Linked DNA regions of Homo sapiens: region 1 is linked to region 2. The links come from fine-mapping of genetic effects on plasma protein levels. A gene starts in region 2. The other region holds a variant in brackets. All regions are shown on one strand. Distances are from middle to middle.

The links. PIP is the chance, under the fine-mapping model, that this variant and not a neighbour inherited with it causes the effect. Protein levels are from antibody-based Olink assays in UK Biobank. Linkage for the fine-mapping came from a reference panel and not from the study's own genotypes, which makes the PIPs less certain.
Region 1: its variant is fine-mapped to the plasma level of the MATN3 protein (UK Biobank, PIP above 0.99).

What each region holds. Positions count from the first base shown.
Region 1 is chr2:19,969,062-19,981,938 of GRCh38, reverse strand. It overlaps WDR35 (WD repeat domain 35), which reads left to right. Exons shown (of 27, transcript NM_020779.4): 4 at 1,156-1,248; 5 at 3,060-3,188; 6 at 6,276-6,409; 7 at 7,306-7,471; 8 at 8,231-8,376; 9 at 12,334-12,459. Among named protein-coding and RNA genes, the nearest start is that of WDR35, 15 kb to the left of the region's middle. The variant A/G (reference allele first, on the strand shown) is at 4,249.
Region 2 is chr2:20,004,763-20,021,638 of GRCh38, reverse strand. It overlaps MATN3 (matrilin 3), which reads left to right and starts at 8,971. Exons shown (of 8, transcript NM_002381.5): 1 at 8,971-9,230; 2 at 15,329-15,895. The coding sequence starts at 9,008. It overlaps WDR35-DT (WDR35 divergent transcript), which reads right to left. Exons shown (of 3, transcript NR_110235.1): 3 at 16,833-16,876. RefSeq lists an enhancer at 9,255-9,867.

The sequences.
Region 1 (12,877 bases), 38 kb after region 2:
AATAAATCTAGAAGAAAATAGCTGTTTTTAATATATTGAAAATACTCCTGTCTATGGATGTTGTATATATAATCCTTTTTAGAATCTGTCCTATGATTCCAGATTAAAGGAGACTGAAGAGACTGGGTGTAGTGGCTAACACCTATAGTTCAAGCACTTTGGGAGGCCAAGGTGGGAAGACTGCATGAGGCTGGGATTTTGGAACCACCCTGGGCAACATAATGAGACCCTGTTTCTACAAAAAATAAAAAAAATTAACCAGGCGTGGTGCTGTGTGCCCGTAGTCCCCAGTACTCAGGAGGCTGAGGTGGGAGGATCGCTTGAGCTCATGAGTTGGAGGCTGCAGTGAGCCATGATTGTGCCACTGCATTCCAGCCTTGGTGACAGTGCAAGATCCTGTCTCAAGAAAAAAAAAGACTAAAGACTGAAGATGTATAACAACTAAATGCACTGTATAATCCTAGATTGGATCTTGGAATGAGAAGAACAAGTGTCTATAAAGGACATTATTTGGACAATTGGTAAAATTTGTATATGGACTGTGAGTTAGATAATAGTATATCAGTGTTAAACTTCCTAATTTGTAATATGATTATGGAAGAGAATGTCTTTATTTTTAGGAAATGTACACTAAAGTATTTAGGGATTAAAAAATTAAAAGTCATCAATTATTCACGTACCCTAGAGGTTTAAGATATGCTCAAGAGTGTTTTACTAATAGAATGGAAAACGAGTGAGAGGTGGGCAGAAGAGAGATTATAGGACATATCTACCAAAAATGATAAAAGTCCCCTAAACAAGTACTTGTTATGGTGTCCTTTGAACATCATTATTTTTGGGAGTCAGGCCAATTGAGTAAACCATGCTTGTATTTGTTTCTGTCATCAGGTATATGGTAGTTCTGGTAGCTAGCCATGATTGGTGTCTTTACTGGGATGAAATAGGGATAGATATGAAAAATAGTATTATGCATTGTTGTAGAAAATTAGTGATATCAATAACTGCATCTTATGAATAGGTTTTGAGGAATATTAAAGACTAGTTAGCTGTACAGGAACCATATTGATTTTAACATGATCTTGGTGTTTATATAAAAATGTGAATTTGAAATTAATTGTAACCTTTAAGTTTCTAAATTGTTTTATAATGTTCTAGGTTCTGTTCAAGTTGTAACATGGAATGAGCAGTATCAGAAGTTGACTACCAGTGATGAAAACGGGCTTATCATTGTGTGGATGTTATATAAAGGTATACTTTACTAGGAGAGATTATTTAATTTTTCACAAGTTGGCATCTGGATCACAGTATTTGGATGGGTAAATAACATCTCCAAAATAGACCCCTTTTACTAACAACAGGAGTTCATCCTGACTGCACAGTGATAATATTTCTGGATTTATTGCTGCCTACTTTTCACTTTTTTAAAACTTTAACCCTGTTATTAAGAAAGTGAATTAGGTGACTGTTGGCCATCTCCAAAATGAACTTAGACTCTTAGCAGAAGAATAGCTTCTACTTGAGATAAGTCTTTTTTTTTTTCCAGATTTCCAATAAGAATTACTTCTAGGTAGTTCCAGTTTATAATTACATTCATGTGTGTGTGAGTGTGTATTTAATATTGGTTCCTCAGTAGACTGTAAGCTCTGAGGGGAAAGGGGAAATGACTGTTTGTTCATTTTATACGTAGAACCTTTTATAATACATAGCACAGTGTACATGTTCAATAAATATTTGTTGAATGAATGAATAAATGAGTGGCTAGAGTTATCTCAGTAGATAAAAACACATTTAGTAAGAAGTCAAAGGGAATAATTCACTTCCTGCATGGGCCAGTTAGTTTCCTTTTCTTTTATGGATACAGATTTTATCTCAACTCTGACTACTGGTTCACAGTTTGTCTATGAGAGAGGGTGAGTAAAAGAAGGATTAACTTAGATAATCCACTTTTACCAGAAAAGCAGCTCATAATACATGTTCTCCTGAGGCCTGTAGTTATCATCTTCAAAAGGGAAGGGTGCCTTAGTTCATGTGTGCTGTTTTGAAAAGTTCATGTGTGCTGTTTTAAATGGCAGGGCATACCATTTAAAAAGTCTTCATTAAAGATATGCTATAATACTTTAATTTTTTAAAAAGTGTGTGTGTGTGTGTGTGTGTGTGTGTGTGTGTAGGGGATAGAATGTGAAAGTTCAGTGGACTGGAGTAAACTTTGTCTGTTTCCAAGGTAGGTCTTCAGGTCTTCTCTGGGTCTCAGTCTCGATTCTGTTATCCTGCTCTGGGCAGTTATTCCAAATTACATGATTATTTGCTTGGCTGCAGGCCAGAGTTGCCCATGTTGGTATGTCAAAAAGCCTTTGAGAAAAGCAAAAACAAAATAGCCTATTTTTTTGCTTCTAGTTTGGTTATGCTAAAAGACAAGTTACATCTCATTCCTACCCTGCATACAACTAGAATATTTTTGTCATTCGGCATTAGAGATGTCGTGTCACTAATGTAGTATAAACTGATTAGAATTTTTTCAAGCAGGCTTAGGGTTTTACCTAATATGCTGTGTATTTTTTTGCCTTCATTCTCTTTGTGATGGTAACTAATATGCTGCATTTAATATGCTTGTAATTATTCATTGGAGAGTTTATGTGCATATGTATAAAGTTATTGTTACTTGGAGTTTTTTTAATTGGTTATGATCTGAACCATATTGTTCAAGTGGGAAAAGTTAGGCTTTCAGAAAAATCAGTAGTTTTAGCTCTGAAAAAGCAAATGAAGTTTAATTTTTAATTGACAGAAAGAAAGAGAGAGGGAAAGAAAGAAAGAAGAAACAAAGGATGGGCATTTATTATGTTTTCTGTGATAATCTTTGAAGCAGTTATCAGTTAAGCCCAAGTTAATTTTTCATTTTGTTTTTGTTGGATTTGGAAGTTTTATAGTTTAATGTCTCAGGTTGTAGAAAACTTTGCAGTTATTTGTCCCATGGCGTACTTTATGGAATGCTTTCAATTCTTAACTACTATTTAATAGATGTGAAAGTTTTGACTTGTAATTTTTTAAATTTGTGAAAACAGGCTCTTGGATTGAGGAGATGATCAACAATCGAAATAAATCAGTTGTTCGCAGTATGAGCTGGAATGCTGACGGACAGAAGATCTGCATTGTATATGAAGATGGGGCTGTGATAGTTGGTTCAGTGGATGGTAATGTATTGATTGGACATAGAACTAAGATCAATATCTGGCTGACAGTTTTCTTCTTTAGAGATTTAAGTTAGTTACCATATGTTAGCATTCTGATTGAAAAATAGACATAAAAGGGAAACTATTTGATATACAATTTGACGACATTCAAGAACCGTTCTTTGATTTTAACCATCTGTTTTTATGTATATTCAAGGAAATTTTTTTATTTCCTACAGTGGCATTGAAAAAATTGAATTAACTTTTCAGCATTATTTTAAACATGTCTGCCTCATTATGTAATTTCTTTTTATATTGGTTAGTCTGTACAAATATATAGACTTTAGTTTCAAAAAGTCTGTGGTCGTTTTTATTGGAACTGAATATGTCATTGTTGGTTGTAGTTTATAGCCTTAAAAACCTGTATTTTTCAAATTCTAGTAATAGATAAAACTGGGTCTTCTGAGAGTCTGCACCTTTGTTTTAATTTGAAACTCTGTAGATAAATAATTTATTTTAAAATCATTTTTATTTCTCTCTCTCGCTCGCTCTGTGTGTGTGTGTGTGTGTGTGTGTCTGTGTGTGTGTGTGTAACTTCATGTAGTCAACAAATGTTTCTGAGAGCCTATAAAGCAACAGCTATCATTTTAGGAACTAAGGGTACAGCAATGACCAGACCTAGATCAGGAGAGATGGATGAGTAACTGAGAAATTACAGTATCCTGTGATAAGCGCTAAGATGGGGAAAATACAGGAGCATGTAGAAGTGCCACCTAATGCAGACTTGGAGGGATCAGGAAAGGCTTCCTGGAGGAAGTGATGCTGATGCTGAGGCATTAGCCACAAGGTAGGTTGGTGTGTAGAATGTCTCTGCCCTAAGAAGTAGTATTTGAGGAGGTCCAGAGGAGTTGCACTTAGCTATGTTTGGGCCATTGAAAAAAGTTGATTATCAGTAGGGTATAATACTAACAGTGAAGAGTAGTATGCAGTGAATCTAGAGAGAGAAACAGAGGCCAGATCATGCAGATCATAAGTTATATTAAGGTGTTTGGACTTAAGTCCAACAGCACTTGGGAGGCCA[A/G]TGAAAAGTTTTAAGAATGGGAGCAATGTGATAAGATTGTTCTTTAGAAACATCTCTGTGCTACATATGAAGAATAGAGAAAGGAAGGAAAGATAATGGGCAGCTGTATCAGGAAACTGCTCTGGCAATTCAGGTGAGAGATTATGGTGGATGGTAGCCATCCAGGTAATGACAAGGGAATGGAAGTAAGTAGATTTTATACATACTCAGGAGGCAGAATAGATAGGATTGGGGATGAGAGGATGGAAGTCCCCAGGGCAGTATCCAGAGTTTTAGCTTGGGCAGCTGGATGGATGGTAATGCCTTTCATTAAAATAGTGTGGAGAAAGATTGATTTTAAGGGAAAATTCCTCTGTTGGATATGTTGATTTTGTCATGCCATAGGCCATTCAAGTAAATCTATCCAGACCATAGTTAGACATACATATCTGCAGCTCAAAAATGTCTGTGCTGAACACAAAATTTTGGGAACCACCAGCATATGCATGGTAATTTAAACCATTGAAATAGTTGAACAAAACTAAGAGGCATTTGTAGAGTTAAGAATCAGCAACATTTAGGCTGGGGACAGTGGCTTATGCCTGCAGTCCCAGCACTTTGGGAAGCCAAGGCGGGAGGATTGCTTGAGCTCAGGAGTTTGAGACCAGCCTGGACAACATAGCAAGACCTTGTCTGTGCTAAAAATAAAAAAAAAACAAAACAAATTATCTGGGCGTGGTGGCATACTCCTGTAGTCCCAATCACCTGGGAGGCCAAAGTGGGAGGATTGCTTGAGCCTGAGAGGTTGAGGCTGCAGTGAGCCATCATCTTACCACTACACTCTAGCCTGGGCAAAAGAGTGAGACCCTGTCTCAGGAAAAAAAAAAAAATCAGCAACATTTAAGGGATAGGCAGAAGAAGGATGTCGAGAAATATAAGAGTCTTAGAGATAAAGGAGTATATGGGCTAATGGCAGCCAAGAGAGTTCAAGAAGGAGGGAGTGGTAAAAAAAAAAAAAAAAAAGTATCAATTGGCTTTAGCAACAGGCCATCAGTGACGTCCATGAAGGCAGTTTCTTTCTTTTTTTTAAACAACAGAAATTTATTTTCTCAGAGTTCTAGACTCTAGAAGTCCAAGATCAAGATGTCAACAGGTTTGGTTTCTTCTTTTTTTATTTATTATTTTTATAGATTTAGAGGGTACAAGTGCAGGTTTGTTATATGGATATATTGAATATTGGTGAGGTCTGGACTATTAGTATATAACCATAACCCAAATAGTGTATGTTGTAGGCAGTTTCAATGGAGTTGTGGGGCAGAAGCCAGATTGGGAGGGGTTAAGGGTTGAGTGGCAGTTGAAGTGGAGACTATAGGTGTGAAGAACTCTTTCATGAAGTTTGGTTGGGAAAGGAATGGTAGAAATAGTAGTTAGAGGGGGAACTTGGGGTTAATAAAAGTGTTTATTTTATTTAGGGTGATGGTTTCAAAGAGAAATAGATCTGCATGTGTTTAAATCCACATAAGAAAGGCCCTGGAGTGAAGAGTTTAATGAGAAAGAGAAAATGAGAGTAGTCGATAAAGGGAGATCTTTGCAAAGGTAGGAAGGGATTAGATCAGAGAATACATAGAGGAATTAGCCTTGGATAGGGGACTGACTGGGGAAATACCTCTTCTTTTGTATTAGTGGGCAACGCAGAAAGTGTAAGCATGGACTCAGTTATGTTCTGAATTGTTGAAGATGGGAATGAGGAATTTGTTTTTTGGGTGCTTTTATTTTCTTTCCAAAATAGAAGATGGGCTCAACTGCTAATTGGGAGTGAGATCCAGCATCAGAGTTTAGAAGAAAGGGGAGAAAGGTTGAAACAGCTGCTATTTCAGATGTCTTTTCAGGCACATATAGGTGCTCAGTAAATATTTATTGGCCAAATAAATTGAATGAATGCATGAATGCTGTGAAGAATTTGTGAGATCTTTAGAAAAACAAAGATTTCGAAAGCCGTTGTTGGAGGATCATGACCTTGAACAACTTTTAATAATGTTTTGTTTTAGGCAATCGTATTTGGGGAAAAGACCTGAAGGGTATACAGCTATCCCATGTAACATGGTCTGCGGACAGTAAAGTCTTACTTTTTGGAATGGCAAATGGGGAAATACACATTTACGATAATCAAGGAAATTTTATGGTAAGTAAGTGTATGCATCAGTCTTGTTTATACAATTTTATATGATTATCGTACATATCATTCATGTTTGTATATACATTTATTTTTTATGGCGGTTTGTGTAATTAAAGTCTTCAATTCAGATTTTTTTTCTTTTTCCCAATCGTCTAAATTTTGTTTTAATTAAATAAAATTTTGGTTTTCTCAAGGCAAATTAGTGCAACAAGTTCGAGTGTAGCTTTTAGTTCCAATTTTTTTTGGTAGGTAGAAAGGACGAGGTGTCAGTGCATTTAAGCAGAGAGATAATGAGTAGGGCGATGTGCAGTTTAAGTTTTATAGGTGTCTTCTGGTGTCTGAAGCCAAAGTTTACATGTAGATACCACAGGGTATTTTTGTAGCAAGCTACCAATGGTTGTTTGTAAAAAGAATGACAGACTTAAATGGTAAGTGAGAAAAATCAATCCCTGGAAAGAAGGTAAAATAGAATAGGATCAGGCAGCATAATCTGGAGAAAAATTCTGGCTTTGCAAGGTTTAGCTATCATAGATGTATGATTACTGGTGGGGCAGTTTTGTTTTTTAGCAAGGGTTAGGACATTAAGTAAATCCACTCACTGGTGGAAGTAAAATAATGAACTTTTATGTCATTTTGCTGTTTTCAAAGTACTTTTATATACTTGTTGTTTGAGTCTCATAAAAACTCAGTGTTTTTTAATCCTCATTTTTTACATGTGGGGAAAATGGACATTTAGGTGATTTGTCCATGGCCTGTATACCAGTAAGTGATTAAGCTTTAATTTGCCACCTGATTTTTAGACTGTATTTTTCAGTGTTCTTTCTACAATACTCTATTGAGTATTGTCTCTATACTGCTGTGTTTTAAAATGTAAAATATTAAACCTAACCAATTTTATTTAGATAAAAATGAAACTGAGTTGTTTGGTGAATGTCACTGGAGCTATCAGCATTGCTGGAATTCATTGGTACCATGGCACAGAAGGCTACGTGGAGCCTGATTGCCCTTGCCTTGCTGTTTGCTTTGATAATGGAAGATGCCAAATAATGAGACATGAGAATGACCAAAGTAAGGAATTTTTCTGTTTAAAAAATTTTTTTAATTTCTATTTTTTTTTTTTTCTTTTTGAGATGGAGTCTCACTCTGTCGCCCAGGCTGGAGTGCAGTGGCACGATCTTGGCTCACGGCAACTTCTGCCTCCCGGGTTCAAGCGAATTTCCTGCCTCAGCCTCCCGAGTAGCTGGGACTACAGGGCGTGCCACTATGCCTGGCTAATTTTTTATATTTTTCGTAGAGACGGGGTTTCACCCTGTTAGCCAGGATAGTCTCTATCTCCTGACCTCGTGATCCACCTGCCTCAGCCTCCCAAAGTGCTGGGATTACAGGCGTGAGCCACTGTGCCCGGCCTCAATTTCTAATTTTTAACTTTTTTTTTTTTGCGACAGGGTCTTGCTCTGTTGCCGAGGCTGGAGTGCAGTGGTGCGTTCTTGGCTCACTGCAGCCTTGGCCTCCCAGGCTCAAGGTCTCAGCCTCCTGAGGAGCTGGGACCACAGGTGTGCACCAACTCCTCCAGCTAATTTTTGTATTTTTCGTAGAGACAGGGTTTCACCATGTTGCCCAGGCCGATCTTGAACTCCTGGACTCAAGTGATCCGCCCGCCTCAGCCTCCTAAAGTGTTGGGATTATAGGCGTGAGCCGTTGTACCCAGCCCTGTTTTTTTAAAAATGTGGAAAGTTTTAAAAATGTTTAAAAGTTGTTCTTAAGATTATAAAGTTCTCTAGGCTACGTATTTTCCCACAGTGACCTCATTTTTCTCTTTCTGACTAGATCCCGTTTTGATTGACACTGGCATGTACGTAGTAGGCATCCAGTGGAACCACATGGGCAGCGTGTTAGCTGTGGCAGGCTTCCAGAAGGCAGCCATGCAGGACAAAGATGTGAACATTGTGCAGTTTTACACTCCGTTTGGTGAGGTAAATGCATTCAAATTGATCTTCTTTCTTTCTATTTAAATGTGCAGTGAGTAAGGTAGAGGAAAAAATAACAAAGGAAACGGTGTAAACTTATCACATTTTCTTTTAGGGACATTTCATCTTCATAGTATAAATCTTTGTTGTATTTTATCATGGAATTTTATAATCTTATAGTTTTATAATTATAAAATAAAAATTACAATTTTATACATTCAGAAAACCAGAAGTTTAACATAAGAAATCACCATGGAGTAGTTATTTTGAATATTTTCTCTGTGATCTGAATATGTGTCTCTTTTCATAGCCAGCTTTTGAGTAGTATTTAGTATAATATAGTTGTTTCAGATTAATTTTTCTGATTTTTAATGTGATATTTTAAATGTGTTTAGATGTTAAACATACATATCTGTCTGTCCTTCCTTCAAACTTCTAATACTTTTAATTTGTTGCAAAGTAATCAGTTATTTGAAGAAAATTTAATAATTAATCTTAGGTGATGCTACATTAAAATAAAAGCATTGTTTTCATAAATGTACATATGAGTATTATCCTTCTCAATAGTATTTTTAATAAATTTAATTTTAAAAGAATTTTCAGAAGTAGCATTGGAAAATGTCAAGTAGGAGAATTAATATATTGTGAATTTTAAAGAATTTAGAAAGTGAGAGCTTATTAATAACTAAGCTTAATACGTTTTTTGAATGTCTTATTTTCTAACCCAGTACTATATTTTGTCCCTTTTGAATACCCTGTTGGCTTTTATAAATTCGCCATAGACTACAGTGATATATATTTTTGGCTGCATAAAAGCCTATACCAGTTGTTTTAATGTTATTTTTATATATTTTAATAATTTCTTTTAGGGCAAGAAATGATGTCTTCTGATGCTTTTGAATCAGTATCTCAAAGTTACCCAGTAGAATATACTGTAGAACGTAGATGCTCTCTATACATTGTCAAACGACAATATTTCTCGTAGATGTAAAAGTGAAGGAAAAAAAAAAGCATAGTTTTCAAGGTTCCTAAATAATTAAAAATCTGCATTCTAATTATTTCTATATTTATAGCCTCCTTCTTAATTCTTGTTCTTTATTGGTTATTTTTGTTGGTTGCCATTTACTTATTTATCATAATGTTTTATCTGCTTATTTTTGTTAGTTCAGCCTTCCCCAGGTAGAAAAACATGGGTTCTAAAGTCTGTTTGTTTGTCTTGCAAAACAATGTGTTAAGTGTTAAACGGAAAACTGTAAGTGGGGTTTGGTTTAGCTGTAACTAAAAGTATCTAGCATAGTTCCTCAGGTCATAGTAGTCAGTATTTTCTGAGTGAGTGAATATATGGGGAATTATTTGGATCTGTGTTATTGTTAAGGTAGGAAAGATAACCTGGATGGAAGTTATCTAACAATTTAAACTTAATGATTTAAACTTAAGAAAACCTCAGAGAAGAATTTGCTTTTAAATTCTGAGGGCCAGGGGCTCCTGGGTTTTGCACTGTGGTCTTAGCCATGGTAGGAGATAACAGAGCATAGGGTTTGTAGTCAAGTTGATCTGGTATTGAATTCATTTTCCACAGTGTAGTTTGACGTAGAGAAGTTATTTAGCCTCTGAGACACAGTTTAGTTATTTTCAGAAATAAAGGAAATACGTCATGGTGCTGTTGTAAAGATTAAAGGAGATTACAATGAGGAAATGCCTACACAGTGCCTGGCATGTAATGAGGGCTTACTAAAAGGTGGTTTTCTTTCCTTGCTGCTGCCACATCCTGGCTGGTTTGCAGTTAGAAGATGGTCGTATTCTCCTCCTCTTATGGATGGGTCAATACCAAGAGTACTGTAGAGGGCTTGCTGGTTCACCTTTAATTTCATACAGGTAGCAAGACAGATAGATCAGACCCTCCTAGGTTAAAACTTTGAGTTTTTTTCTTCCATTGGTTTCCTTGGGAAAATGGAGCTCAATACATTTGTCTTACTCTATTATGTGCTGCTATGACAGAATACCACAGACTGCATAGTATATATTAACAGAAACTTATTGGCTCACAGTTCTGGAGAATGAGAAGTCCAGTATTGAGCTACTGACATCTGGTGAGGGCTTTTCTGCTGCATAATTTCATGGTGGAAGGAAGAAGGGCAAAGAGAGTGCAACAGAGAGACAAGAGGGGACCTAATTCCCCTTTGTATAATGGCAGTAGTCCCAGCCATGAGGGCCCTCATGCCCTGATCACTGCTTAAAGGTCTCATCTCTTAATACTGTCAAAATGGCAATTACATTTCAATGTGAGTTTTGGAGGGGACAGACATTCAAACTATAGTAACATTAAATTTGACCCTAGAGGGTATCTGCTTAGAACAAGGGATACCAGTAAAGTTCATTGAAATTTTGGGGATTCTATCATTCTGTCAAATAAAAGATATAGATTAAAAATGTTCGATTGCCTTATAGCCACATTAAAAAAGTGTTTGTATTCATTTATTCACTCGTTAATTTGGTCATAAAAAGTACTGTTTATTTATTTTAAATTTTAAATTAAAAAAATTTGAATGTATATTTATTGAAGATATATATTGACTATCAGTTTATCAAATAATCTATTAATGGAAAGGGAAAGAAATGTGAATATGATACAGTTAGTACTCTTAAGGAGCTCATTCTGTAATTCTCTGGAACCATAGAATGGGGGAAGAAGGCAGGACTCGTTGAGGAAGCAGTATTTGAGCTGTATCTTGATGGATGAATAGGCGTGCTCCAGGAGGACAAGGACCAGTAAGGATAGGGGAGCTGTGAGGAAAGAAGAGGGGGATTTCAGGCAGAAGGGATATTGTATAGGCCAAAGCTGTGGAGGCAGAGTAGTTCCTTCACGAGCAGGCACACAGCAGTTATGGCTAAATAGTGGGATATTAAGCCACATAATATGATTTTGGACAAGATGGGAAAAAGGCATTGTATGCCATGCTAAAGAATGTGATGGTGGGGATTTACTGATTTTTAAAAGTTATTAAACCTTTTAAAAAGCAGGGTAGGTTATGATTAGATCTGTGTTCCAGAAAGATAATTGTGACAGCAGAGTATAGATTGAATTGGGAGGGCAGAGGGGGAGAATAAGGAAACAGATGAAAAGTAAGATATAAAGTTAGGAAGCTATTACCACAATGCAGTCCATTAAAAAGGTAATTGTAGAGAGTGGAAAGGAGTAAAAGCAGTAGGACTTGGTGACTCGTTGGTTGTGAGGGGATGAAAGAGAAAGACAAGACTTTATGATTGAATTTGCTAATAAAATATTTCATTGATTCTAAGAAATATAATTTTTTACAACTTTAAAATGAGGAGGCATCTTATAATCAAAGTTGCCATATTTTAATTAGCAATGTGTTTTTTCCTTTCCTTAGTTGTACATAAAAATTCATGTTTCAGTCTATGGCATTTTAGATTTGATGAAATTTGCTATTGAATTCTTTGGATATAGTTTGTAAATTTTTCTTATATGCATGTTTTTCATTATAAAAATTCAAGAAACGTGGCTGGGTGCGGTGGCTCACGCCTGTAATCCCAGCAGTTTGGGAGGCCGAGGCAGGCAGATCATGAAGTCAGGAGATCGAGACCATCCTGGCTAACACAGTGAAACCCTGTCTCTACTAAAAATACAAAAAATTAGCTTGGCGTGGTGGCGGGCGCCTGTAGTCCCAGCTACTCAGGAGGCTGAGGCAGGAGAATGGCGTGAACCTGGGAGGCGGAGCTTGCAGTGAGCCGAGATCACGCCACTGCACTCCAGCCTGGGTGAGAGTGAGAAATTCCGTCTCAAAAAAAAAAAAAAAAATTCAAGAAACATGATTTTAAAGTGACTAGTAACTTTTCACAAAATAATGTTCATACCACTTTTGATCTCTGTGAAGTGATTGGTGGTAATTTGTATTTCAGTTAATTGTTATACTTTAGGTTAAAGATAACTTTCTTTTTCAGCATCTGGGTACTTTGAAAGTTCCTGGAAAGGAAATATCTGCACTATCTTGGGAAGGAGGTGGACTGAAAATTGCACTAGCTGTTGATTCCTTTATATATTTTGCAAACATTCGACCTAATTATAAGGTAAATATTAAGAGCAGTTGTAAAATAAACAGTGTTTCTTACTAAATAATTTTGCTATAGCTCAAAGTATATTCAAAGCTGTCTTGTTTTAGGAGCTAGCAGAAAGGAAGCCTTTTTGTGTGAAGATTTTAGAACTAGTAAACTTTTCTAGAATACTATATATAGTTAGTAAAATTACTCCATGAGTCTTAGCCAGAAACAGATGGTACACTCAAAGGAGTAATTGAAGAGAGATTGATGAAGGGCTTATTACAGAGATGTGGGCAGGGCTAAAGGGAACAGTAAGGGATGATAAAAAGTACCACCCAAAGATTAGCGTCAATGAGAAGCCATCACCAGCCCTGGGCCTGAAGGGGCAAGACAAGGGAGTCAGGCTCCTGGAACCCACAAGAGCTGTGGCTGTGCAAGAGGGTCTGCT
Region 2 (16,876 bases):
ACCACAGGCCCAGAAGCCTAGGAGGAAAAAATGTTTTTGTGGGCCCAGCCCAGGGACTTGCTGCTTTGTGCAGTCTGGGTACTTGGTGCTCTGCATCCCACCTGTGGCTAAAAGGGGCCAACAAAGAGCTCAGGCCATTGCTTCAGAGGGTGCAAGCCCGAAGCCTTGTTGGCTTCCACGTGGTGTTGAGCCTGCAGGTGCACAGAAATCAAGAATTGAGGCTTGGGAACCTCCTCCTAGATTTCAGAAAATATATGGAAAGGCCTGGATGTCCAGACAAAAGTTTGCTGCAGGGGCAGAGCCCTCATGGAAAATTCCTATTAGGGCAGTGCAGAAGGGAAATGTGGGGTAGGAGCCCCCACACAGAGTCCCAATGGGCACTGCCTACTGGAGCTGTGAGAAGAGTGGCACCATCCTTCAGACCCCAGAATGGTAGATCCACTGACAGCTTGCACTATGCACCTGGAAAAACTGCAGACACTCAGTGCCAGCCTGTGAGAGCAACCAAGAGGGGGGCTGTACCCTGCAAAGCCACAGCAGCAGAGCTGCTCAAGGCCATGGGAATCTACTTCTTGCATGAGTTTGACCTGGAATGTGAGACACAGAGTCAAAGGAGATCATTTTCGAGCTTTAAGATATGACTACCCCTCCCCAGGATTTTGGACTTGCACGGGGCCTCTAGCCCTTTCGTTTTTGTCAATTTCTCCCATTTGGCACAGGTGTATTTACTCATTGCCTGTATCACCCTTGTACCTTGGAAGTAACTAAGTTGCTTTTGATCTTGCAGTCTCATAGGCTGAAGGGACTTCCCTTCTCTCAGATGAGACTTTGGAACTGTGGACTTTTGAGTTAATGCTGAAATGAGTTAAAGCTTTAGGGGACTGTTGGGAAGGCATGATTGGTTTTGAAATGTGAGTACATGAGATTTGGGAGGGGCTGAGGCAGAATGATATGATTTGGCTGTGTCCCCACCCAAATCTTACCTTGAATTGTAATAATCCCCATGTGTCAAGGTTGGTGCCAGGCAGAGATAATTGAGTCATGGGGGTGGTTTCCCCCACACTGTTCTTGTGGTGGTGAATAAGTCTCATGAGAGCTGATGGTTTTATAAACGGGAGTTCCCCTGCACAAGCTTTCTTGCCTGCCACCATGTAAGATGTGCCTGTGCTTCTCCTTTGCCTTCTGCCATGATTGTGAGGGCTCCCCAGTCATGTAGAACTGTGAGTCCATTGAACCTCTTTTCTTTATAAATTACCCAGTCTCAGGTATGTCTTTATTAGCAGCATGAGAACAGACTAATACACCTCCAGAAACTGGAAATTCCTGGGCCCAGAACCCAACCATCTGATTCAGCCCATATAGGGTGGGGGCCCAGGAATCTGTCTTTGATAAGGCCTCCCGGGTGATTCTGACAGTCCAGTTGCAGGCCCACTGCATCAGGGCATGGGGACTACAGGCCTCCTTCCCCTTTGTTTGATTTGCACCCAGAGCTGGAAAAGACTGAACCTCTGAGAGATATGAAAAGGCTTCCATTGGAGGTTTCTGTAAATAGCACAACTGCATGTTTTGTCATAAATCAGTAAGTCTAGGATGTGGAAAAAATATATCTTGGGATCCATGGCCTTGCATGTGTCCTGGGAGATTTTAGAGCCAGGCTCTGCACAACCCGAAGTCAAGAAAGGGCATGACTCTTGGGAGTGACAACTTGTTGGAAGCGGATTCCAACCATGCTTCCCATTTGGCCTGAGCTGAGAGCTAGCAGTTTCCCTACTCGCAGGACACCAAGCAACAAGAACAAAGAAATTGCTCCACCAAGGCTATCTACTTATGAAGATGAAAAGCTGTTAGAAAGTGGTTAGGATTAGATCAGCCAACGTGAGTGGCCTCTTGAGGAGAAGCCAACCTGGAATGAGAGATGAAGGGTTCTTGTTGAATCTTCTAAGAGAAGGGCCCTCTGAGGGCCCCCATCTATCCCCATCATAAGCAATGTCTAAATAAATTGTGCTAGATCCTGTTGTAGTTTCCAAATATTTGCCATTTTTCCAGCAAAAAGTTGATATTAATATTTCCCAACTGCTGCCATCAGGCTTGGCCACGTGGCTTGCTCCAGCCAATAACGTGAATGAAATTGATTTGCCACCTTCTTGCAGGTGCATGATTCTACCATCTTTTTTCCTTCCTTTGCCTCAAGACCAGCACATTCCAGATTGGGCCTGCTCCTATGTCTGGGTGCCAGAATGAAGAAGACATGGAGGAGAGCTGCAGCCAACCTATGAAGGACACATAACACAGCAAGAAATAAACGTCCTTTGTTATAAGAACATGAGTGTGGGGCCATTGGTTACCATAGCATAACCTAGCCAAAGTTGACTAATAAATAGTTTTTTAGAATTGTAAAAAAATTATAGCAATATTAAAGTGATTTTTTTAAAGAAAAGCAACTCTTAATTTACTTTCTAGCCTTGGTTAAATAGTTTTAATTTCCACAGATGCTCACATGCTAATGTGCTGAAACAGACATTACACTTTAGGCTGCGTCTCCCCCAAACTTCTTCCCTAGAAGGAGCCTGGTGTTGGAGGAGGATCTCACTCCACTGCTAGAGAAGGCCAAGGAAGAGATGGTCTGTGGAGCCAATGCCCAGCACAGGGCAGTCTGTTGTCAGTGAAGTGAAACAGAGCACTCGCCACCACTCAATTCCTGGAAAAAGCAGTGCCAGGCTGTTTCTCTTCCTACAAACAATCTATCATGCCTGTTGACTACTCTGCCAAGGAAAGGCTGAATATCAGCTCTGTTCCATGATCTCCCATTTCCTGAAGTCTCAGTCCTAACAGAGGTTGTGAACCTGCATGTGGTAAGGTAGAATTTCTGGGAATTTAGTAGCAAACAATGCAAGCATTGCCTCTGCCCTCTTGGAGCCTATGCTCTAGTGGAGTCTGATGGAATGAATGCATTTAATACATATTAAATAATTACAAAGTGAGTAAGGCCCACTGAAGCAACAAACCAGACACTTGTAATAGATTGAAAGGGCAGAGGCAGCAGAAGAAAATCTATTTAATACAGACGTTTTCAAACATTAGTGAATCATGAATTCTATTTAGATGTTTATAGCCAGATTTTTAAGAAAATGAAATAGAAATGAATGGAGTTGAATAAAATAGGAATCATTGGAGTGCATCACATGTGTTGTCAATATTGCTTTATAAAACTCATTTCTGGGCCAGGCACGGTGGCTCACGCCTGTAATCCCAGCACTTCGGAAGGCCGAGGCGGGCGGATCACGAGGTCAGGAGATCGAGACCATCCTGGCTAACACGGTGAAACTCCATCTCTACTAAAAATACAAAAAAAAAAAAAAAAAATTAGCCAGGCATAGTGGCAGGCACCTGTAGTCCCAACTACTCAGGAGGCTTAGGCAGGAGAATGGTGTGAACCCGGGAGGCGGAGCTTGCAGTGAGCAGAGATCGCACCACTGTACTCCAGCCTGGGCAACAGAGCAAGACTCCGTCTCAAAAAAAAAAAAAAACTTATTTCTGTTGTATATATGTATTATATATTTGTGCAGTAACTGGCTCATAATATAAAATGTGTTGTTATAGTGAATTGTGGTAAAAACAAATTTGAAAAACCTAATTTACAATATGGCTTCAGAGAATCAACTCTGGGGAAGACATTACAGTGAACTGGCTGACTTGATAATTGTTTTTTTATTTACTAGTGAAACTTAATGCTCATGCTTGTACTTCTAAAATGAAACAATAAAAATTAAAACCAATCTTTTATTAAAGGAAGCAAAAGTGTTATGAGTTGCTCTTTTCAAATATTGATTCTACTATTTTGAATAGAAATATGTCTTAAGTTGTAAATGTTAGTTAATAATAGTAGGTCATTAACAGCCCTCTTCAGAACTTACTGGCAATAATGAAATGTGCTTCCTGTGTTTCAGAAATAGTGTTTTTTTTTCTTTTTTAGAGCAAGCCAAACTTTGCCTTCAACCTCATCTCATTTGCAAGCTACTCTCATATAGCTAAGAATTTGGTATTAAAAATAGGCACAGGCCTTAAAACACAAGAGTTTAGATTTAGTTTCCATGTTTTCTGCTTATTCACAGAAATATTGACTGATTGATTGATTGAGACAGGGTCTCACTCTGTCGCCCAGGCTGGAGTGCAGTGCTACGATCATGGCTTACTGTAGCCTCAATGGCCTGAGCTGAAGCAGTCCTCCTACCTCAGTCTCCCGAGTAGTTGGGACCATAGGTGTGTGCCACCACACCTGGCTAATTTTTAAAAAATTTTTCATAAAGATGGAGTCTCACTATGTTGCCCAGGCTGGTCTTGAACTCCTGGGCTCAAGCGCTCCTCCCACCTCCCAAAGTGCTGGGATTACAGGCATGAGCTACCACATCCAGTCTAGAAATATTTATTTAATAAAATAAATATTAATGGGTAGTACCAATCCGTAATTTGTACTATCTTAATCCCTGTGGCAATTAAAAAACAGAGATGGCAATACAACTTGTAGGCTATTGAACATATTCATTTTTCATAATTACTTGTTTTTTTCAGGTGGGTAAATTGCAAAAAACATAGGTAAAGAGTTCTATACTTTCTGGAAAAGACTTCCACCTTGGGATTGAGACAGTTTTGAACACAAAAGAAAACAAATTTTTTTCTCCAAGTACATGGTCTGTCATTTATCAGATTTAAGAAGTCTTGGGACATCTTTTGACAACATTTTCTCCAATGCATCCATGGAATCAAAGGACTTTTCAACTTGTTTGGGGGTAGATTTTTTGGTCTAAAGTTGGAAACATATGTCTTCTTTCAATAGAACAGTGGATGTCTGCACACGTATTTTTCAATGTTTACACCTACAAGTCTATGCACATTCAAGACATTGGCAACAGTGGTGTTATTGGCAAGGGTGGTTGGGATAGTTCCTTTTCACCATATACCTGTAGTATATGCCACAGGTTAGCTGTCAACTCCCATTCCAATGCATGTTTTCCTTTGCCTTCTTCACTGTGGATCAAAAAAGCTAAGAACTTACCTTTCAAGACCCCCTTGTGGCCAGGTGTGGCCATGAGATGTCAGCAGCAAATATCTTTTGGTCCTTTGCTCTTTGGCCTTTGGTCTTCCCTCTTCCTTCATCCTGGAATGCCAACATGATACTTGGAGTTCCAGCAGCCTTGGGAACAAAATCCACACATTAAGGGCAGCAAAGCAGGAGACAAGTGGTTCCTTAAGTAGCTTGCAAGTCTTATTCTACTGCTGAAATCCTAGTTGTGAGAAAAATAATTCTCCCAAGATGTTGAATTTATTGCTTGTAAGAAGTAATGCAAAGTTGAAAGTAATCCTAACATTTGGTCGGTTTCTTTTTTCTTTTCAAAGTTTAGACCAAGTGCATGTATTACCTACTTTAAAAATAATAAAATTCTAAAAACAATGTAAAGTGTATATATAAATCTTTGTTGTATTTCTTAGATTTTTGAATAGTTCAAAAAACCTCTGTTTGGCTTTTTTATGACCTAAGTCTTTAGGTTATCAAAAAGTTATTCTAGTCTTTATCTTGACAAAGTAGTATAAGATAATATGCAGTGGTAGAGAAATATAGCTTTTGCAATATTCCCAAGTAAACACCTGAAAGCAAAGTTACCACCTGGTCCAGCAGCCAGTTGAGTTGGTGACATGCAAGAAGGCCCTACAGCCACCTGAATTCCTCTGTCAGAAGAGCTACCTTTGTTTTATTTGACAATCTTTGGACATCAGATGTAAGACAACCGCCCTGGAGTGTGAACTCTGGAGATACAAACTTATCAGACAATTTCTATTTCATTCAAGATGGCATGACTTTCATACACCAGCATCTGAAATTGTCTGAGATACTGACAACGAATGTGTAGGGACATTCACCAGGGAGCTGAGATTTTTATTTTGAGCTCTTTAAAACAGTGCCCCCCAGTGGTATGCAATAGAAAAAAAAAATCACAAGATTAATATATCCACATTGTTGGTGCAAACAGAACCCATTCCTGCTAGAATGAGCTGAAAAAGAGGCTAAGCATGGTGGCTCACATGTATAATCCTAGCACTTTGGCAAGCTGAGGTGGGAGGATCACTTGAGCCCAGGAGTTCAAGATCAGCCTGGGCAACATAATTAGACCCTGTCTCTATAAAGAATAAAAAAAAATTAGTTGGGCGTGGTGGTGCACACCTGTGGTCCCAGCAACTCGGGAGGCTGAGGCAGGAGGATTGCTTGAACCTGGAGGATTGCTTGAGCCCAGAAAGTTGAGGTTGCAGTGAGCTCTGATGACACCATTGCACTCCAGCCTGGGTGACAGAATGAGACCCTGTTTATAATAATAATAATAAAGAAACAGAAAAAGTATATATTAAGGGTATTATTTGTCCCACTACTAGCTCAAAGTACAAATGGAAAAGCCAACCATTCCTCAAGAAACATCACTCCCCAGTTGAAGTGGAATTCCAAATGTTATAATCAATATGTGTTGACTACGAATGTGAATAGTGCCCCTGTGAACTTGTGCAATGTACACCTACACCATCCATATGTAGCCCTGGATATTAAGTGGTTCAAATAATTTCTGGAAAGGTTCAAGAATCAAGCTTGGAAGCCACACAGTCATCAACCATTCCCAAAATTATACTGCAGGTTTGCTATATGGGAGACCTAGAGTCACTGCTGCTTGGCATAGACACCACATATGATCGATGAAGACTGGGCCACTTATGTACATCCTAGCTGCAAGAGATGCTGGGGAAGCAAGTTCTTGGAGTCAACTTGGGGAGGTGCTGACTCATGAAGTTGGAAATCCCTAAATTTAGGAAGGTATTTGTGATGGTGAATTTTAATGTGTCATCTTGACTGGGCTAATGGATGCCCAGATAGCTATTAAATATTATTTCTGGGTGTGTCTGTGAGGATGTTTCTGGAAGAGATTAGCATTTGAATCGGTAGACTGAGCAAAGAAGATCACCTTCATCTATGTGAGTGGAGTGGGCATCATCCAATCTGTTGAGGGCTTGAATGGAGCAAAAAGACAGTGGAAGGCAAATGTGTTCTCTGCTGGAGCTGGGCCAACCAGCTTCTCCTGTCCTTGGACATCAGCATTCCTGGTTCTTGGGTCTCTGGACTCAGATTGGGCCTTATGTCATTGGCTCTCCTGCTCTTGGGCCTTCAGGCTTGGACTGGATTACACCACTGGCTTTCCTGGGCCCCCAGCTTGCAGACAGCAGACTGTGGGACTTCTCAGCCTTCATAATCGCATGAACCAATCCCTCATAATCTCAATTACTCCCCCCACCCTCTCTCTATATGTATGTGTATATAAAATTTATTGGTTTTGTTTCTCTCAAGAACCCTGACTAATGTAGGGTTCAAAGGCTTTGGGGATCATTCTAAAAGCAAGACGAAAGACAAATGTCCACCAGAGCTTGCAAATACTGTATTTATCAATCCCTCCTCTTCTTGGCATAGTTTCTTTCAAACTTCTTAGTGTCCTCTTCCCATTATTACAAACTTCTCGTTTCTTCTAAGGTCCTTCTAAATTGGTGAGTTCTCAGTGGGAGTTGAGTGACCTTTTCCCTCAGTGTGACTATCACTGCCCAATGTCATTGATACATTATACAACTCCCCATCCCCACTTCCCCTCAGCTCCTGTTAACCACCATTCTTTCTGTCTCTATGAATTTGACTACTCTAGATTCCCCATGTAAATGGAATCATACAGTATTTGTCTTTTTGTGACTAGCTTATTTCACTTAACATAATACTCTCAAGGTTCATCCATTTTGTAGCATCTGCCAAAATTTCCTCCCTTTTAAGGCTGAACAGTATTCCATTGTACGTAGATACTGCATTTTGCTTTTCCATTCACACAAAGAGAGACACTTGGGTTGTTTCCGCCTCTTGGCTATTGTGTATAATGCTGCTACCAGCATGGGGTACAAATATGAGAAGTGAGGTTTAGGATCGTGTGAGGAGGATCACTTGTAGAGGGAAAATAGTGAAATAGGACGACCAGATAGGCTCTGTTGGAACTCGCGCCCATTGTTTTAAGACGCAGCTCAAATGTCACCTGGTTTTAGAAGTCTTCCTGGTCTCCGCAGGCAGTCAGTATCTCTTTCCTAAATCCACCACATTCCCGTAGACAGACACCACATTTATGCAAATCTCCTTCTCACAGACAGTGAGTTCCATGGGGGTCCCCTGGCAGCCTCCAGCCCTGTACCATGCTAACTCTTCCGGAGAGGAAATGGGGCCTCGGGAGAGCCTTTGAAGCCTGTGTTGGTACAGGCTGTCCTTCCAGCTAACGGGGCTCTCTGGGGAATGTATGTTTGACTTTCTATTCCCGGTAATATAAGTTCAAATGTTTGTGGATATTTGAAGCTCGGATGAAAGCGTTTCTATTCATGCCCCTAGAATCTGTGAGGCCTTTTCTTTCTTTTTTTTTTTTTAAACAAGAGCCCACAGCAAAACTTGGGTTACTTGGCTGAGGAAAGGAATGTAGAGCTAGGAGCAGGGTTTCATCTTCAGCCCCAGTCGGGCAAACCAGTGGCAGAAGGGAAAGCAGAGCCCAGGGGTCCCCATCCCGTACCTGGGGCGCAGGCCCCGCTGGGGTGGGAGGGAGAGTGGAGGGCCGGGCAGGCTGCAGCCGCGGATGGCTGCCCCCCCTGCCCCGGTGTTACTGGGAGGACGGAGGTTGCGACAGCAGCCGAGCCCACCCAGTTGCAGCCGGCTCGGGGCTTAGGGCAGGGGCGGGAGGTGACCACCGCGCCGCTGGCCGCCTCGCCCAGACATTCCGTTTCTGCCGCTGGAATGCGCGGACAAGGCTCCTTGTTGGCCTTGGGCGGGGTTCGCCGGGCCGGCCTGGCGCTCGAGGCCCCGGGGCGGGGCGGGGCCCGAGGCCGCGGGACCTTTAAATCCGAGCCTCGCGTGGGCTCCTGGCCCCCGACGGACACCACCAGGCCCACGGAGCCCACCATGCCGCGCCCGGCCCCCGCGCGCCGCCTCCCGGGACTCCTCCTGCTGCTCTGGCCGCTGCTGCTGCTGCCCTCCGCCGCCCCCGACCCCGTGGCCCGCCCGGGCTTCCGGAGGCTGGAGACCCGAGGTCCCGGGGGCAGCCCTGGACGCCGCCCCTCTCCTGCGGCTCCCGACGGCGCGCCCGCTTCCGGGACCAGCGAGCCTGGCCGCGCCCGCGGTGCAGGTACAGGCGGGCGGCGGGAGGGACGCGTGAGCATCGAACGAGGAGAAGCCCAGGGCATCCACCAAGCGCGCTTCATCCCGGCCTCAGGCCGACCGTGGTGCGGGGGAAAGAGGCCCCTCCCGGATGAATCCTGTGGGGGAAACTGAGGTCCAGAGAAGGGGAGGGAGATGCCCAATATCACTCATGTGTCCAGGCTAGAGATGTGGGTCTCCTGAAGCTCTCACTCCCCTGTGATTCGGCCAGGAGCACAGGGCAGCTGGGGAGCGCAGGGGCTGCTGCCCAGCGGCTGCTGCTAAGCTCCGTCCCAGTCCTGACCTCTCCATTCAGTGAGCAAACCCTTCCTGAGACTCTGCTGTTAGTTCTCTTGGAATCTCTCCATCTCCATCCAATATCAGGGCGTGATCTTTCCTCCCCTCCCACAGTCCTCAGGCTGCCTCAGACTGGAAGGTAAGGGATGCGGGTGTGAGACCAGGAGGAGATCCGAGGAGCCGTAGGATACCCCAGGATCAAGACACTCTGGGTCTTTGGCGAACAATTCTATTTCTCTTTTTGGTCAGCAATTGATTCCTGAAGCAGAGCAAAGCTCATAGTGCAGCGAAGCGGGCAGGTCGTCTGACACAGCCCCTGACAGCACATGAAGGGAAACTGAGGCATATCAAGTTGAAGGGACTCTGTGAATCAGTATCAGAGGCCACAATAAAATTCAGGGCTCCGAAATCCCAAGCAAGGTCTCTTTCCACTGCCCCAGCCTACCAACCTCTTAATATGGTTTACATAAGATTGTATCTTCATTTCCAAAAAGCGCAGCTTCAGTCTTGCTAAAAAGAGTCTGTGCCAGGCCATTTCTGGGTATGCAGTCTCATTTGGCCAGCCACGCTGCATGCCTCAGGCTGATTTCAATTGTCTATCCCCTTCTGCATCTTTCTGGATAAGCTGAGAAGGAGCTCAAGGGACTCTTTCCTGACTCAAATACTCAGTCCCCGTATTTGAAGTGGCAGATTTGAAATGGCAAAAGCATTGCTGCTAAGGCAGGAGGTACCGGGGTCCACAGGGCTAGATTCAGCTGGTGGCTGGTTGCTCCAGGCCGGGAATTGAGGGAAAGCCTTTCTTCTGGAAGTTAATCTTACTCTAGTCCTGACCTGCCTCCCTCTGGGATGGGACTGGAAGAGGAAGGAGAGATTCAGCACCAGGTGGCCATGTCCCCCTAAGCTTTACTGGTCTTTCATTACCTAGAGTCCGAACCTGATCATGAATGATAACCCATTAATAAATGCGAGATTCCACCCTGTTCCAAATTATCTCCTTTTAGCAACCAGAAATTGCTAAGCTTCGCTATGGATTTTTATTTCTAGCAGGACTGTAAGGACTCAGTGGTATTATGAGTATGGGAACATTTTAGGAGATTCAGATTCTTTCTTTGTTCTTGGGAATCAAATTGCTGCTATTTAGTAAATGGGAGTGAGATTCAAAAACAACTAATGATTGATGCGGAGTACCAGTCAGGAAGGAACCAGATGTTCACAGAATTTTCTGCCACCATGGTCAAGCCTCAGGTATTAGTTTTCTATGGCCACTGTAACAAATTACTGTGAATTTAGTGCCTTAAGACAACACACATTTATTACCTGAGAGTTCTGTGGGTCAGAAGTCTGACCCTGGTCTCACTGGGCTAAGATGAAGGTGTCGGCAGGGCTGTGTTCCTTTTGGGAGGCTCTAGGGGAGACTGCATTTCCCTTCCCTTTCCACCGCATGAAGGCTGCTGAGTTCCTTGGCTTATGGCCTTTTTCTTCCATTTTCAGAGCCAGCTAAAGCAGGTTGAGGCCTTCTCCCATTGAGTTACTCACATTTCTTTCATCTGCCTCCCTCTTCTACTTTATAATTACATTGACTCACTGAATAATCCAGGATAACCTCTTGTGTAGAGCTCTTTGACTTAATCACACCTGCAAAGTCTCTGCTCTTTGCCACGTAAAAGTAACATGTCTCTGGAATTAGGACGTGGACGTCTTTGGCGGGGGACATTATTCTGCATACCACACCCCGAATAGAGGATTCGGTGTGAATAACCAAGTGGAGAAGGAAAGAATCATGCACGTTTAGTTATAAGAACATAGCCATGATATTTATAAGGACACCATTTGGGTGCTGGTGAAAGCACTGTCAATTACAGAGTTCATATCTTCATGTTACCCCCACCTTTTCTTTTTCTAATTATACAAAAATACTTTGACCCATCTCCAGGAAAGATTTTCAACATAATTCTTCTTCCTAGCTCTAGATCTATGGGACTTTCCAGGAATGAAGTAAAATTCTGGAGGTTTTTTTTTTTTTTTTTTTTTTTAGTATTTGAAGAGATTTATTCTGAGACAAACATGAGTGACCATGGTCTGTGACACAGCCCTCAAGAGGTCCTGAGTACATGTGCTCAAGATGGTCAGGGTGCAGCTTGTTTTTATACAATTTAAGGAGGTATGAGACATCAATCAAATACATTTAAGAAATACATTGGTTTGGTCCTAAAAGGTGGGACAACTCAAAGCCGGTGGTGGTGAGGGGCTTCCAGGCTATAGGTAAGTTTAAATATTTTCTGGTTGATAATTGGTTGCATTTGCCTAAAGACCTGGGATCCATAGAAAGGAAATGTTCAGGTTAAGATAAAAGACTGTAAAGACCAATGTTCTTTTGAAGTCTTATAGTGGCTACCCTTAGAGACAATAGATGACAAATGTTTCCTATTCAGATCTTTTTAAAAAATTATTATTATTTTACTTTAAGTTCTGGGATACATGTGCAGAATGTGCAGGTTTGTTACATAGGGATACATGTGCGCTGGTGGTTTGCTGCACCCATCAACCCATCATCTAGGTTTTAAGCCCCACATAGATTAGGTATTTGTCCTAATGCTCTCCCTCCTCTTGCCCCCCACCCCCTGACAGGCGCTGGTGTGTGATGTTCCCCTCCCTATGTCCATGAGTTCTCATTGTTCAACTCCCACTTATGAGTGAGAACATGTGGTGTCTGGTTTTCTGTTCCTGTGTCAGTTTGCTGAGAATGACGGCTTCCAGCTTCATCCATGTCCCTGCAAAGGACATGGACTCATTCTTTTTTATGGCTGCTGGAGTTGTTTTTTTTTTTTTTAAAGAAAGAAAGAATTTTGATTCCTTTTTTTTTTTTTTGGCTTTTAGAGACTGGGTCTCATTCTATCATCCAGGCTGGAGTGCAGTGGTGTGATTGTGGCTCACTGCAGCCTTGACTCTCTAGCTTTAAGCGATCCTCCTGCCTCAGCCCCCTAAGCAGCTGGGACTACAGGTGCCTGCCACCATGCCTGGCTAATTTTTAAACTTTTTATAGAGATGAGGTCTCCCTATGTTGCCCAGGCTGGTCTAGAACTCCGGAGCTCAAGTGATCCTTCTCCCTCAGCCTCTCGAAGTGTTGGGATTACAGGCGTGAGCCACTGCGCCTGGGTTTAATTCCTTTTGACTTAACTAAATGCATGACATACAGCATATTTCAGGGCGGTGACTTAAAGTCAACAAGCAGGATGTTTACTGAATACATGAGAGAATGTTGATTTTTGTGGAGGAAAATGTTGCCTCAGAGAGAGGTAACTGGGATTCAGTAGCAAGCTCCCAGGGACTGGGAGTCAGGAAACCTGGAGTCCAATCCATGCTCTACCACTTTCTAGTTCTCACACCTCCTTGAACCTCAGGTTTCTCACCTGTAAAATGAATATAAAAACCACCTCTGCACCTCCAGCCTCACAGGTTGATGTGTTGGTACCTTGCGATTCCTAAAGTGTTACTGAAAGGAAGATTTTCTTTTTGTTAATTAAATACCTCCAAGCAGCAGGCTAAAAACAAGAAGATAATTTTCTGCTTTTAAAAGAAAACTAGACAGAGACATAAGGTAGGCTGTTCCAGGTAAGGCTTTAATTTTTTTCTATAAACTGCTTAGTCTAGGCATTAATTTTGAATCACCTTTTTTTCCTACTAAGTATTACCTTCCTAGAGTAGCATCAACTTCTGCCTCCTTATTAGGAAAGGAAAGAGCCTTGAGTGACACTTCATGCCCCAGGACCTCATTTCCATTTAGGGCTGCATGCGTGTGTTGGGTGAGAAGGGGGAATGACTTGAAAAAGAAGTTTAGGGCTGGGCACAGTGGCTCACACCTATAATCCCAGCACTCTGGGAGGCCAAGGTGGGAGGATCACCTGAGGTTGGGAGTTTGAGCCCAGCCTGGCCAACATAGTGAAACCCCGTCTCTATGAAAAATACAAAAATTAGCTGGGTGTGGTGGCGCACACCTGTAGTCCCAGCTACTCAGGAGGCTGAGGCAGGAGAACTGCTTGAACCCAGGAGGTGGTGGTTGCAGTGAGCCAAGATTGCACCACCGCACTCCAGCCTGGGTGACAGAATGAGACTCCGTCTCAAAAAAAAGAAAAAGAAGTTTAATAATTGGCTTTTTTTCTTGTCTCATCCTGACTTGTGGATTTGATTTTTGTATCGAGGAGAGAGGGTGTGCAAACAGGGGTTGGGGGAAACAGGAAAGAACAGGAAAGAATAGATGAACACTAAAATGTACTGTGATACTAAACTGTTAGGTACTTTTGTGTAGAAAAGAGATAAATTCTTTGAAGGTGGGAAATCTGGCTATCTGGTTTATATGCTTTTGTAGCTCCAGGGCTTCATACATGTAGGCCCTCAAAAAATGTTTTTGGTGAATGAATAAGTCAAAAGAGAGATGACCAAGAGAGTTAGTTGGGGCAGTAGGGTAGATACCAGATCACAATCCCTGCTTCTTACGAGACATGCTCATGAAGCTGGAAGCTCACTAAACAGATACAAGATTAAGTTGGCATCCCTCATTCTACTTTTTTTTTGAGATGATGTCTTGCTCTTATTGCCCAGGCTGGAGTGCAATGGCAGGATCTCAGCTCACTGCAACCTCCACCTCCCGGGTTTAAGCGATTCTCCTGCCTCAGCCTCCCGAGTAGCTGGGATTACAGGCACATGCCACTACGACCCGCTAATTTTTGTATTTTTAGTAGAGACAGGGTTTCACCAAGTTGGCCAGGCTGGTCTCAAACTCCTGACCTCAGGTGATCCTCCCGCCTCGGCCTCCCACAGTGTTGGGATTACCAGGCGTGAGCCACCGCGCCCGGGCCCCTCTTTCTACTTACTTTTTTTTTTGTTTTGTTTTTTGAGACGGAGTCTCGCTCTGTTGCCCAGGCTGGAGTGCAGTGGCGTAATCTCAGCTCACTGCAAGCTCTGTCTCCCAGGTTCACGCCATTCTCCTGCCTCAGTCTCCCGAGTAGCTGGGAATACAGGCACCCACTACCACGCCCGGCTAATTTTTTGTATTTTTAGTAGAGACGGGGTTTCACCGTGATGGTCTTGATCTCCTGACCTCTTGATTTGCCCGCCTTGGCCTCCCAAAGTGCTGGGATTACAGGCATGAGCCACCACGCCTGGCTCTACTTTAAATTAGTTCAGGGCTCCAGTGAGCCCCCAAATTCACTAAACAGGAAAGATGGCCAGATGGAGGGAGAATTCAGGGATACTCTGGAGCAGTTTTCAGCCCCTTGGAAGTGGAGTAAAAGAGGGGGGCCACCAGAAGAGCCCCTGAGTGCCTTGCCTCAGACTACCATTGCCTGAGGCTTGGGCACAGTGGTTGGCAGTGAGGCTGTCCCTGAGGGCCCAAGGCCTTTTACATGGTTCAGGGACACATTGTCCAATTGCTCCAGATAGCCAAGGTACTTAAGAAATGTGTAGAATCTATTAATTCCCAGGAATCATGAGGGCCCTTGGGAGCAAAAGCTTAAGCAGAGGGATGAGGTTCTAAGTGAAATTTCAGGATTCAGCCAGCCTGCAGGTGAGGTATTTGGGGAAACTTCACACCTCCAGGTGAATTCTCACTAGGGAATTCTGAAGTCCTTGGTGCTTTCAACACCCCGATGGTCTTGGGGAAGGTCGCAGGCAGTGGTGATGTTGGGGTCAGGAGATGCTGCCTTGCCTGGCCTCCTGGAATCCCAGAGTTCTCTGGAAGTGAGGATTACTGCATTTCTAATTGTGGTCTGATCATTGCTTGGTCTTTTGCAGGTGTTTGCAAGAGCAGACCCTTGGACCTGGTGTTTATCATTGATAGTTCTCGTAGCGTACGGCCCCTGGAATTCACCAAAGTGAAAACTTTTGTCTCCCGGATAATCGACACTCTGGACATTGGGCCAGCCGACACGCGGGTGGCAGTGGTGAACTATGCTAGCACTGTGAAGATCGAGTTCCAACTCCAGGCCTACACAGATAAGCAGTCCCTGAAGCAGGCCGTGGGTCGAATCACACCCTTGTCAACAGGCACCATGTCAGGCCTAGCCATCCAGACAGCAATGGACGAAGCCTTCACAGTGGAGGCAGGGGCTCGAGAGCCCTCTTCTAACATCCCTAAGGTGGCCATCATTGTTACAGATGGGAGGCCCCAGGACCAGGTGAATGAGGTGGCGGCTCGGGCCCAAGCATCTGGTATTGAGCTCTATGCTGTGGGCGTGGACCGGGCAGACATGGCGTCCCTCAAGATGATGGCCAGTGAGCCCCTAGAGGAGCATGTTTTCTACGTGGAGACCTATGGGGTCATTGAGAAACTTTCCTCTAGATTCCAGGAAACCTTCTGTGGTAAGTTGGTCAGTCTTTGCTTCCAACTAGAAAGGATGTTATATTCAGACATTGTGTACCCAGAGAAAAGAGTATTATTCTTTTTTGGTGGAAATTTAATGAAAAACTTAAATATATCCAATGCGTGTGTGTGTGTGCACGTGTGCATGCGCGCGTGTGTGCGACCAACCTAAACACACTCTATTGGTTTAGGAATATAGAGCTGCATTATATGGAACTTGGTTTGCTCATAAAATCTTCATGTTTGCGTTAGAACTGTGAAGGTCTGCAAATATCCAGGATAAATGACCCTGCTGTTCCCTGTCAGGGTCAGGAAAAACAAAACTCAAGATGCCTCTCCTGTCCCCTCTGCCCCACCACTACATTTTTTTCCCCTGATACATATTTTTTTAGTTTTACCATCTCTAGATCTAACAGAACTCTGTTTGTTCTCCTGCAGAAGACAGGGAGAAGCGTCTGTCCTTGGGAGAGTCAGCAGGCCTCTATTCCAATGTCACCGTCAGCCCGAGTGTGCATTTAGTGAATGCTCTGGTTTTCAGACTGGGCTGTTTATCTGATTACTCTTTGTTGAAGAACAGGATTCAGGGACCAGGCAGATTAGGGTTTCAGCTCACTTGAAAGAAAGCAAGATGATCTTAAGAAATCATTCTGTTAACTCTGCTACTCCTTCCATCCTTTAGGATGGAATTTGAATAAGGACATGCTAATTTTATTGGAATTTTTAGCATGAATTGACCAAATCTAGGACTACAGATCCATTCAATGCTGGAGTTTAATTTTAGTCACTGATCAGAATTATGATCTGTGGGACTCATGCTTTATTTTTTTATCATCTGGAGATAATCTTTTGTTCCCTCTATGTGAATATCCAAGCAGTTGTGGACAAATTTCTAGTTCAGGTGAATTTTTAAACATAGATATCTTTTTGCAATATAATTTATTTCACACTTATTTATTCAGCATGCATTTATTGATCTCTGA